Homo sapiens: one gene and its partner. The protein of the gene in region 1 interacts with the protein of each later gene in a pairwise test. Each region holds a gene or a part of one and is shown on either strand. Other genes may lie near its edges.

Region 1 (7,000 bases):
TTGTTGACAGCCATTCGAAGTTCAACCACGCCCCCAAACTTCTGGCTCACAGCTCGGCTCACTGGGACATAGGCCATTGGGATGACCTCGATGGGGATTCCCTTGTGCCACTGATCCCCGAGATTCTTCGAATCTTTCCTGGAAAGAAGGAGTCAGAAAGTACAATAAAAGTAAATAAGCTCAACAGTACAGGCAAACACCAAATTCAGGAACAGGGTTAATGAGATGGTGGGAAGGCAAGGAAAGTGATCAAGGGCAATATACATGGGGCTACAAATGAATTAGCTGTTTCACTATATAGGAAAAGAGCTATTTGAAATAAATATGACAAAAATGTTAAAATCTGATATTGCTGGCTTGTGGGTATGTAGGTGTTTAATATTTATGCTCGTCCTGTGGCTATATTTCACAAGTAAATATACACATACACATATTTGAAATTAACATGCTCAGCACAAGTGCTTTTGACTACATTCCTTGAAGGAGCATCTGAGAGCCTGGTCAAAGACTATCAATGACACCAGTCACCTGCGGCAAACCCTGACCCGAGAAGAAGCAGGGTATGCTGAGTCACTGCCCGTGGGCAGGGCACACCCTGCCTCCTCTGAGGCTCCCTGTGAGGATCCAGTGAGTGACATGACACATGAGAGCATGCTCTGCTAACAGGGTGACAAGCTGTTTCCCCGTTCCACTGAACACATGAAACGATGCTAGAGATCCTGGCTGCGGATAACAGTGCTGTGATTAGCAACATCTACCTTCAGCCTACAAGCAGAACATAAGGTCTCCTAGACACTGTACTAAGTCCTAGCCATCAGTCTCAGAAAGTCAGACAGTCCCTGCAGCTCTCCATTTCCTCTTTCACAAAAATGGGGATGCGGCTTGGGGATCCAATCTACCTCCTCAGTTGGCAGCTCAGACACCAGAAACTGTACCTGAAATCAGCGATCACGATGAAGCGACTAGCATAGCCAGCCACAATCTTCTCCTGGGTCAGGCAGCCTCTGCAGGAAAGAAGCAAAGGAACACAGGAGTAAGACAAAAATCTCAGTTTGGGAACTAAGGTTAAATACAGGAATCCCAAATCCACTCAATCCTGGCACTTAAAGAGAAACTTAACTTTTAATTTTTAAAGGGACATCCCCAGTCCCATCATGCTGCTCCTAGTAAATGGACTCTAGAAACATTACCCCTGTCTGGGAGAAACCTAGAAAGCAGACAAGGTTCCCATTCAGGCCAGGCATAATTCCATCCAAATGTGTCTGAGAGGGAGCATTGTGTTCAGGGAGATGTCATCTGGACATGGCATGAATGGGAGGGTCTAGAAGCTGAGGAGGGCACGCTTTGAACAACCCGCCCAGTCGACTACTTGCCAATGAGGGTGATGAAGTGGAGAGAGCCCAGAGCACTGAATCAGCAGATTTGGGTCCAGGTCTACCTCTAGGGTTTAGCAGCTAAACTATCTCACATCTGCAGTTGACAGGATTAAGTAACACGTAAGAAAATCTAATAAACAGTAAAGTGTGATTTTAAACAAATGCTGCATCACTCAATAGTCTGCTTGATTATAAGAACCAGCAGAACAGGATTTCACCTTTTTCAACTCACCATTCCCACCACTCCCCAAATCAGCACTTAAGAAATACCCAATTAATGTTTTCCAAAGGAACAAATAATATCCCTAACTGCTCACAGAAGTAAGCACAGCTTTAAAGCAAAAGTCACACACTGGTGCCCACAGACCTAACAATCTAGCCCAGTATTATTTTGATTTGGCCTTAAGTTTTTAAAGTCTGAATCAACAAAAGAACACAAATCCACAGAGAATCCATTACGATGAATGATCTCACTAAAGAGGCCCAGGTTCCTTGTCAGTAAATTGCTGCTAATGACCAGAAATGCTGAGTTGGGTCTAAGGCCATATGCTATCAATATCCTAGGAGAAAGACAAACTTGCATATGTCACAGTGGCAATTTGTTTATTCTGTATCCATCTTGCTTTGCTAAGGATTAACTGGCAGATACTCTTTAGCACAGAAGCCCCCACAACACTCACCCGCCACCCTTGATGAGATTGAGATCAGCATCTACTTCATCAGCACCATCGATGGCAAGGTCGATCTGTATTGGGGGAAAGGTAAAGATACAAAAACCACTCGAGGGGAGCCTCTGCTAATTGCCTGAGCATGCGATAGCTCATCAGATACTCAGCAGCCCTGTTAGCTAATTCTAGTACTCCCATTTAGCAAATCAAGAAATTGAGCTACAAGAGGTTAAGCTGCTCCACTAGGATCAAAGGGAAACAGCACAGGACTTGGGACTCTAACCGGGATGCAGTTCTTACCCACAAGACTATGTTCCCTTTTCTCATTGATGGGCTTCTCTGTGGACAAGCTGGCGTTATTTAGAGCACGTGTTCTCAGTGTGGGTGCTATCACCTCCCCCAAGAGGCAAAAATTAGTTTTTGGTGGGGGAATAAAAAATCTTAGACATTACAATGAGTTTTGTCCCACCAAAGGGCCAATACAGTAATATCTGTGCTACTAAATTCCACTGGGGGTGGGAAAAATGCAAAAAAAAAAAACTGATTCAGAAGTCTCTGTACTAACTGTGAGCAACCTCACAGGCAATTTTAAGTGGACATGAGGATCAAATGAAGAGATACACAAGAAAGCTGATGAGTTCCCGAACTGGAAATTACTGGGGCATTGCCACTAAGACCCCACTTGTCTGGGCTTGCCCGCTCCCTCTATTAGGAAGCTCCACCACAAGCCCCAAAAGCAGTTGAGGGGCAAATGGGTTCATCTAGCTTTTAAAAATCAAAATCAAGAAAGTTACACATTTCTCATCACTCATGGTACTCTGCATGGACATTGTAGGAACCCCGAGTATATTTTTAAAGACAGCAAGTAGTATGCAGGGTACAAATTCTATTCATGGTGCAGTTACTAAGTTGCTTGGCATGGCTGGCATGGCACAGGTATAAAAAATACAGTTTCATATGGGTCATGCTTGCTTCCAGCCTTTTACAGATTCCAGCCTTTGTCTGAAGTTACAGCAGGCACTGCTCTCCCCAGGCCTGCATTAACCCCAGAGCCAGGCTGCACTCTGGCAATTCTCAGGGGTATGGAAAGTGGCAACCTTTTCTGTCTGGGCTCCAGGCCCACCTTCAGCCCAAACCACTCTCTTCACAGCTGCTGAACACATGATCAGCCTGTGCCCCTGGCTCTGCCCACAGAAATCCCCAAGTCCTTCCCATAGTTCTTACTAACCCCTGTGAGGCCCATGTGTATGACAGAAACATGGGCTACCAGATCACCATCAAGTCTCAACCTGCCTGGTTTTCCAGGTGCCATAAAACCACCCCACTTTTCCTATCCAGCTTTGCTTTCCCTCTCCCCACTATGCACCAACGCAGTACACTCACTCTGTCCTATCACCCCAGCCAGTCCGAGCAGTGTCCATTTGCCCACATGGAGCTGTTCCTGTGGTTCCCGTCTACCACTCTCTGGAATGTTCTCTCCTGCCCCTGCCACCTGGCCTTTATAGCCCAATTCAAACTTTACCTCTTCCCAAAAAACTCAAACTAGCATTAGTCTAGAAAAGATGTGCCTGAGTTCAAATTCTGATTCTGCCACTTAAAACCTGTGGCATTAGCCATATGACTTACCCTCTCTGTGCCTTTTTCACATCTATAAAATGGGAAAATTGTGGTATCCTATCTTCAAGAATACTGGAAATAAAACAGTTTAATACAGGTACAGCACTTAGCACAAAAGCTGGTACATAATAATGGCTCAGAAAATGCCAGGTAGGGTTTGTGATGTTGCTCACCCTCACCAACATCAGTCTCCTCTGGACTGCCCCTGTGTTAGTCTTTACCACAAAACTTAGTTTTAATATTTTCTTTTTTTTTTTTTTTTTTTTTTTTTTTTTTTTTTTTTATTATACTCTAAGTTTTAGGGTACATGTGCACATTGTGCAGGTTAGTTACATATGTATACATGTGCCATGCTGGTGCGCTGCACCCACTAATGTGTCATCTAGCATTAGGTATATCTCCCAATGCTATCCCTCCCCCCTCCCCCGACCCCACCACAGTCCCCAGAGTGTGATATTCCCCTTCCTGTGTCCATGTGATCTCATTGTTCAATTCCCACCTATGAGTGAGAATATGCGGTGTTTGGTTTTTTGTTCTTGCGATAGTTTACTGAGAATGATGGTTTCCAATTTCATCCATGTCCCTACAAAGGATATGAACTCATCATTTTTTATGGCTGCATAGTATTCCATGGTGTATATGTGCCACATTTTCTTAATCCAGTCTATCATTGTTGGACATTTGGGTTGGTTCCAAGTCTTTGCTATTGTGAATAGTGCCGCAATAAACATACGTGTGCATGTGTCTTTATAGCAGCATGATTTATACTCATTTGGGTATATACCCAGTAATGGGATGGCTGGGTCAAATGGTATTTCTAGTTCTAGATCCCTGAGGAATCGCCACACTGACTTCCACAATGGTTGAACTAGTTTACAGTCCCACCAACAGTGTAAAAGTGTTCCTATTTCTCCGCATCCTCTCCAGCACCTGTTGTTTCCTGACTTTTTAATGATTGCCATTCTAACTGGTGTGAGATGATATCTCATAGTGGTTTTGATTTGCATTTCTCTGATGGCCAGTGATGATGAGCATTTCTTCATGTGTTTTTTGGCTGCATAAATGTCTTCTTTTGAGAAGTGTCTGTTCATGTCCTTCACCCACTTTTTGATGGGGTTGTTTGTTTTTTTCTTGTAAATTTGTTTGAGTTCATTGTAGATTCTGGATATTAGCCCTTTGTCAGATGAGTAGGTTGCGAAAATTTTCTCCCATGTTGTAGGTTGCCTGTTCACTCTGATGGTAGTTTCTTTTGCTGTGCAGAAGCTCTTTAGTTTAATTAGATCCCATTTGTCAATTTTGTCTTTTGTTGCCATTGCTTTTGGTGTTTTGGACATGAAGTCCTTGCCCACGCCTATGTCCTGAATGGTAATGCCTAGGTTTTCTTCTAGGGTTTTTATGGTTTTAGGTTTAACGTTTAAATCTTTAATCCATCTTGAATTGATTTTTGTATAAGGTGTAAGGAAGGGATCCAGTTTCAGCTTTCTACATATGGCTAGCCAGTTTTCCCAGCACCATTTATTAAATAGGGAATCCTTTCCCCATTGCTTGTTTTTCTCAGGTTTGTCAAAGATCAGATAGTTGTAGATATGCGGCATTATTTCTGAGGGCTCTGTTCTGTTCCATTGATCTATATCTCTGTTTTGGTACCAGTACCATGCTGTTTTGGTTACTGTAGCCTTGTAGTATAGTTTGAAGTCAGGTAGTGTGATGCCTCCAGCTTTGTTCTTTTGGCTTAGGATTGACTTGGCAATGCGGGCTCTTTTTTGGTTCCATATGAACTTTAAAGTAGTTTTTTCCAATTCTGTGAAGAAAGTCATTGGTAGCTTGATGGGGATGGCATTGAATCTGTAAATTACCTTGGGCAGTATGGCCATTTTCACGATATTGATTCTTCCTACCCATGAGCATGGAATGTTCTTCCATTTGTTTGTGTCCTCTTTTATTTCCTTGAGCAGTGGTTTGTAGTTCTCCTTGAAGAGGTCCTTCACATCCCTTGTAAGTTGGATTCCTAGGTATTTTATTCTCTTTGAAGCAATTACGAATGGGAGTTCACCCATGATTTGGCTCTCTGTTTGTCTGTTGTTGGTGTATAAGAATGCTTGTGATTTTTGTACATTGATTTTGTATCCTGAGACTTTGCTGAAGTTGCTTATCAGCTTAAGGAGATTTTGGGCTGAGACGATGGGGTTTTCTAGATATACAATCATGTCGTCTGCAAACAGGGACAATTTGACTTCCTCTTTTCCTAATTGAATACCCTTTATTTCCTTCTCCTGCCTGATTGCCCTGGCCAGAACTTCCAACACTATGTTGAATAGGAGCGGTGAGAGAGGGCATCCCTGTCTTGTGCCGGTTTTCAAAGGGAATGCTTCCAGTTTTTGCCCATTCAGTATGATATTGGCTGTGGGTTTGTCATAGATAGCTCTTATTATTTTGAAATACGTCCCATCAATACCTAATTTATTGAGAGTTTTTAGCATGAAGGGTTGTTGAATTTTGTCAAAGGCTTTTTCTGCATCTATTGAGATAATCATGTGGTTTTTGTCTTTGGCTCTGTTTATATGCTGGATTACATTTATTGATTTGCGTATATTGAACCAGCCTTGCATCCCAGGGATGAAGCCCACTTGATCATGGTGGATAAGCTTTTTGATGTGCAACTGGATTCGGTTTGCCAGTATTTTATTGAGGATTTTTGCATCAATGTTCATCAAGGATATTGGTCTAAAATTCTCTTTTTTGGTTGTGTCTCTGCCCGGCTTTGGTATCAGAATGATGCTGGCCTCATAAAATGAGTTAGGGAGGATTCCCTCTTTTTCTATTGATTGGAATAGTTTCAGAAGGAATGGTACCAGTTCCTCCATGTACCTCTGGTAGAATTCGGCTGTGAATCCATCTGGTCCTGGACTCTTTTTGGTTGGTAAACTATTGATTATTGCCACAATTTCAGAGCCTGTTATTGGTCTATTCAGAGATTCAACTTCTTCCTGGTTTAGTCTTGGGAGAGTGTATGTGTCGAGGAATGTATCCATTTCTTCTAGATTTTCTAGTTTATTTGCGTAGAGGTGTTTGTAGTATTCTCTGATGGTAGTTTGTATTTCTGTGGGATCGGTGGTGATATCCCCTTTATCATTTTTTATTGTGTCTATTTGATTCTTCTCTCTTTTTTTCTTTATTAGTCTTGCTAGCGGTCTATCAATTTTGTTGATCCTTTCAAAAAACCAGCTCCTGGATTCATTGATTTTTTGAAGGGTTTTTTGTGTCTCTATTTCCTTCAGTTCTGCTTAGTTTTAATATTTTCAAATGTCCATGGCTGCCTCAGATGATTCTTCCTTATTT
Region 2 (3,718 bases), on another chromosome or scaffold:
CAGCTTCCCAAGTAGCTGGGATTACAGGTGTGTGCCACCATGCCCAGCTAATTTTTGTATTTTTAGTAGAGAGGGGTAGAGAGGGGATTTCATCATGTTGGCCAGGCTGGTCTTGAACTCCTGACCTCAGGTGATCTGCCCATCTCAGCCTCCCAAAGTGCTGGGATTACAGGCGTGAGCCACCGCACCCAGCCTAAAAGCCATTTGTAAAGAAGTAATATTTAAGACTTTTTTCAAGAGCTGGGGGGAGTGTTCACATGCCCACGAAGGTTCTTTGCCAGAATTACGCACCCACACATGCACCCAGTAGAAGGGCTTTGCTGGGAGTGCTGATTCTGCTCATTCTGGAGCTTATATTTCCTCAGTTCCAGAACTACTTCTTATAAAAGTTATAAATCACAACATTTAAATAAGATCCCAAAGTGCTACTGCCTTCTTAGAAATTCAGCTATAGTCATTATATTAATAAATCTTTGTATAGGTGAGAGATGGGTTTTGGTCTGTTCACCCTCAATCCTGTTCTTTCCTGACTTTAAGTCGATTCATTCACCACTCACTCACTCACCAGCATTTACTGTATAGCTACTACAGGGCAAGCCCTGGGCTAGGGAGTCAAAGAGAAATGACGACTGAAGTACGGTCCTGGCCCTGGAGCAGTGTAGTCACATTCTACAATGTACAGTTGGATTAATGCTAATTACTTACTCAGACTTCGCAAAAGGAAACAACCAGAGAAACAGTCTTTTTCCCATGATCGTAAACACTCCCTATCTGGTGGACTTGCTGTTCTTCCTTCTATATTCAAAAACAACCAATGCCTCTTTTACTTTTAACTTTATTTGGCAAAGCAGCACTGCATAAACTGTTCAAGAACTAGGACACAGCTTACACAGCATGTTAAGTTCATATACATTATCAGCAGCAAATTAGAAACAGAAAACCACACTAAACTACAAGTCTCCTATAATTTTGAGAGAGAGAGAAGGGAAGAACTAAGTCAGTTATGTCCAATCTGAACAGCTGAGTGTTTACAGGACATCACCTGCCATCTTATGGTTTAATATTTACAAATGCCTAGTTTTAAGGTAACAAAGCAGCTGATTGTATCTACAACATGCTATTCTATGACACCACATCAAAAGCTTTAAAAAGAAAGCTCATCTCTATTTTCTTAGTAGCATCTAACAGATATCCAAATACCAAGAATCTTAACTTGTGAATGGTGGTGTTATCCAATGCACAAAAGCAATCTGATAAATTAATATCAGAACAGAATTAAGTGTCCAAGAAAAGAAAAACCACTCCTCAAAATCAATTCACAAACTAAGTTTTCCATTTTACAGAACCCTTTCTTTTAATATTTCCAAGTAAAATATGGGCATGTTAAAGTAATATTACACAAATTTATACTTTGCATCCTTCCTCTACCAATTTGGCTCTGTGCCTCTTTGAAGAATCAGAAACCCTAAAAAAACACACATTTTCATGCTGAAAATAACAGTGTAACAAAGTCCAAAACAAGCTGTGATGGTGTTGGTTTTCAAAAAGCTTTGAGGACTGAGATGAGCAATCCACTGTAATTTTATACTGGTCAAGCTGATGTTGCTTTTACAATTCATCCCTGTGAGGAAAAAAGAGAGAAATACATTAGTAGGAGTTACACACTACCCAATTTGGCTTTATAATAGTTTAGACACAACTATTAAGTCAATAAAAATGCGCTGATCACCAAGCAATATATTTAAAAAATAAAAATGCAAACAACCCAAGTGAAAGCAACAGAGGGTCAGCCATTCCAAACATCTTCCATGCCACTCCAGAACCAAGTATGCAACCTAAAGGGCGTGAGTTCTTCATTTTTGATTTCTAAAAATAGATTTCTTCCTTCAATGTCAAAATTCAGAAAAAATATCTTTTAGATCTACGGTCATCTTTACACTATAGTAAAATGACAACTTAAGTGTTTTAGAGTTCAAATGAGTTGATAGTTACATTCACAAAATTGGACAGAAATGTGGTCTTTTGCTCAGAATGTCCACTAGCAATTGTGGAGTGGGTCAATCTCAACCCAAGCGCTCTGAGAGAAAAGGCATCATCTGTAGGTATAATATACCTGTCAGCTGATTTCATAAGGCAGCTTTATCAGCTCCAAAAGAAACCATTCACTCAGCCAGGTGCAGCACTGTACCAGCAACTGCCAGTGAGAGGAAGGAAGGAATAAAAATGCAGTCTAAAATAAACTGTATGGTATCTCAGTTATACCTCAGTAAAACTGTTAAAAGTGAAAAAATGAATAAAACCACGAGAGAAGCCCACAAGCCTCATAGCTGAAGGTAATGTGAGTGACAAAAACAAGAACTTTAGGGGTAAAGAAGCATGATATTGATAATTAAGTCTCAAGTGGTTTAAGAAAAAGGAAAAAAATTACATATATGTATATATAGAAAGAGGGGAAAGAAATGTAGAAAAATGATAATAATTGATGACTCTGGATGAAGAGATTTAGGAGTTATTTGTACTATCCTAGCAACTTGTTGGCAATAAAAATTAAAGTTAAAAGTTTTGAAAAAGTTGTTAAGATAAATTTGAAGGGAAGAAGAAATAAAGAGCTCATAATTTCACAAGTAAGTGGGGGTAAATTACTGGACAATTTTTTTAAACTAAATTTTGTAAATTGTGCAAGAAAATATTTTTAAAATCATTTCTCCAATAAGCTGCCTTTATCCTATAGTATTGGATTATCTATTAAATGACAAATCATAAGTCTGCTTCCTCTTAATATATTCTTCCAAATAACAATGTTATAATTCTCATAGAACAGCTTTTACTTAACTCATGCAGGCATTAAAATATTTGGTCAACAAAGAATTATTTGCAAAGTGCTCTATTCATAAAGTAAAATTCACTTCTGCTTTTTAGAATATGAACTGAAGATATTGTTTTTCTTGTTTTGGCTTTTTTTTTTTTTTTTTTTTTTTGAGACAGAGTCTCGCTCTGTCACCTAGGCTGGAGTGCAGTGGTGTGATCATGGCTCACTGCAACCTCTGCCTCCCAGGTTCCAGCAATTCTCCTGCCTCAGCCTCCCGAGTCGCTGGGATTACAGGCAGGCACCACCATACCCGGCTAAATTTTTTTTGTATTATTAGTAGAGACAGGGTTTCACCACGTTGCTCAGGCTGGTCTCGAACTCCTGACCTCAAGTGATCTGCCCACCTCAGCCTCCCAAAGTGCTGGGATTACAGGTGTGAGCCACCATGCCCAAGCCAAAGATATTGTTATTTTTAAATAATTTACTACAATTTGCCAGGGGCAGTGGCTCACACCTGTAATCCCAGCACTTTGGGAGGCCAAGGCGGGCGGATCATGAGGTCAGGAGATCGAGACCATCCTGGCTAACATGGTGAAACCTCGTCTCTACTAAAAATACAAATAATTAGCCGGGTGTGGTGGCATGCACCTGTAATCCTAGCTATTCGGGAGGCTGAGGCAGGAGAATCGCTTAAACCAGGGAGGCGGAGGTTGCAGCAAGCTGAGATCACGCCACTGCACTCCAGCCTGAGCGACAGAGCGAGACTCCATCTCAGAAAACAATAATAATAATAATAATTTACTACAATTTACCTGCTGCAAGACATTAAGTATACTGTAAATAAATTAATGCCCCCTCAACAACATAGGTACCATTTTTCCAACTATCCTCTCTGTCTAAAAAATACTT

Evidence for each region.
Region 2: the proteins of RPIA (region 1) and PCMT1 interact in binary tests that used the Homo sapiens proteins (3 or more experiments, as listed by UniProt).

What each region holds. Positions count from the first base shown.
Region 1 is NC_000002.12:88,729,673-88,736,672, reverse strand, and holds part of RPIA (ribose-5-phosphate isomerase), read right to left. Parts: intron 2,122-7,000; coding exon 2,057-2,121; intron 1,471-2,056; coding exon of another isoform or gene 1,455-1,470; exon of another isoform or gene 1,374-1,454; intron 1,005-1,373; coding exon 936-1,004; intron 139-935; coding exon 1-138. UniProt on the Homo sapiens protein: Catalyzes the reversible conversion of ribose-5-phosphate to ribulose 5-phosphate and participates in the first step of the non-oxidative branch of the pentose phosphate pathway.
Region 2 is NC_000006.12:149,808,519-149,812,236, reverse strand, and holds the end of PCMT1 (protein-L-isoaspartate(D-aspartate) O-methyltransferase), read right to left. Parts: intron 1,622-3,718; coding exon of another isoform or gene 1,609-1,621; 3' UTR 818-1,608; downstream 1-817. UniProt on the Homo sapiens protein: Initiates the repair of damaged proteins by catalyzing methyl esterification of L-isoaspartyl and D-aspartyl residues produced by spontaneous isomerization and racemization of L-aspartyl and L-asparaginyl residues in aging peptides and proteins.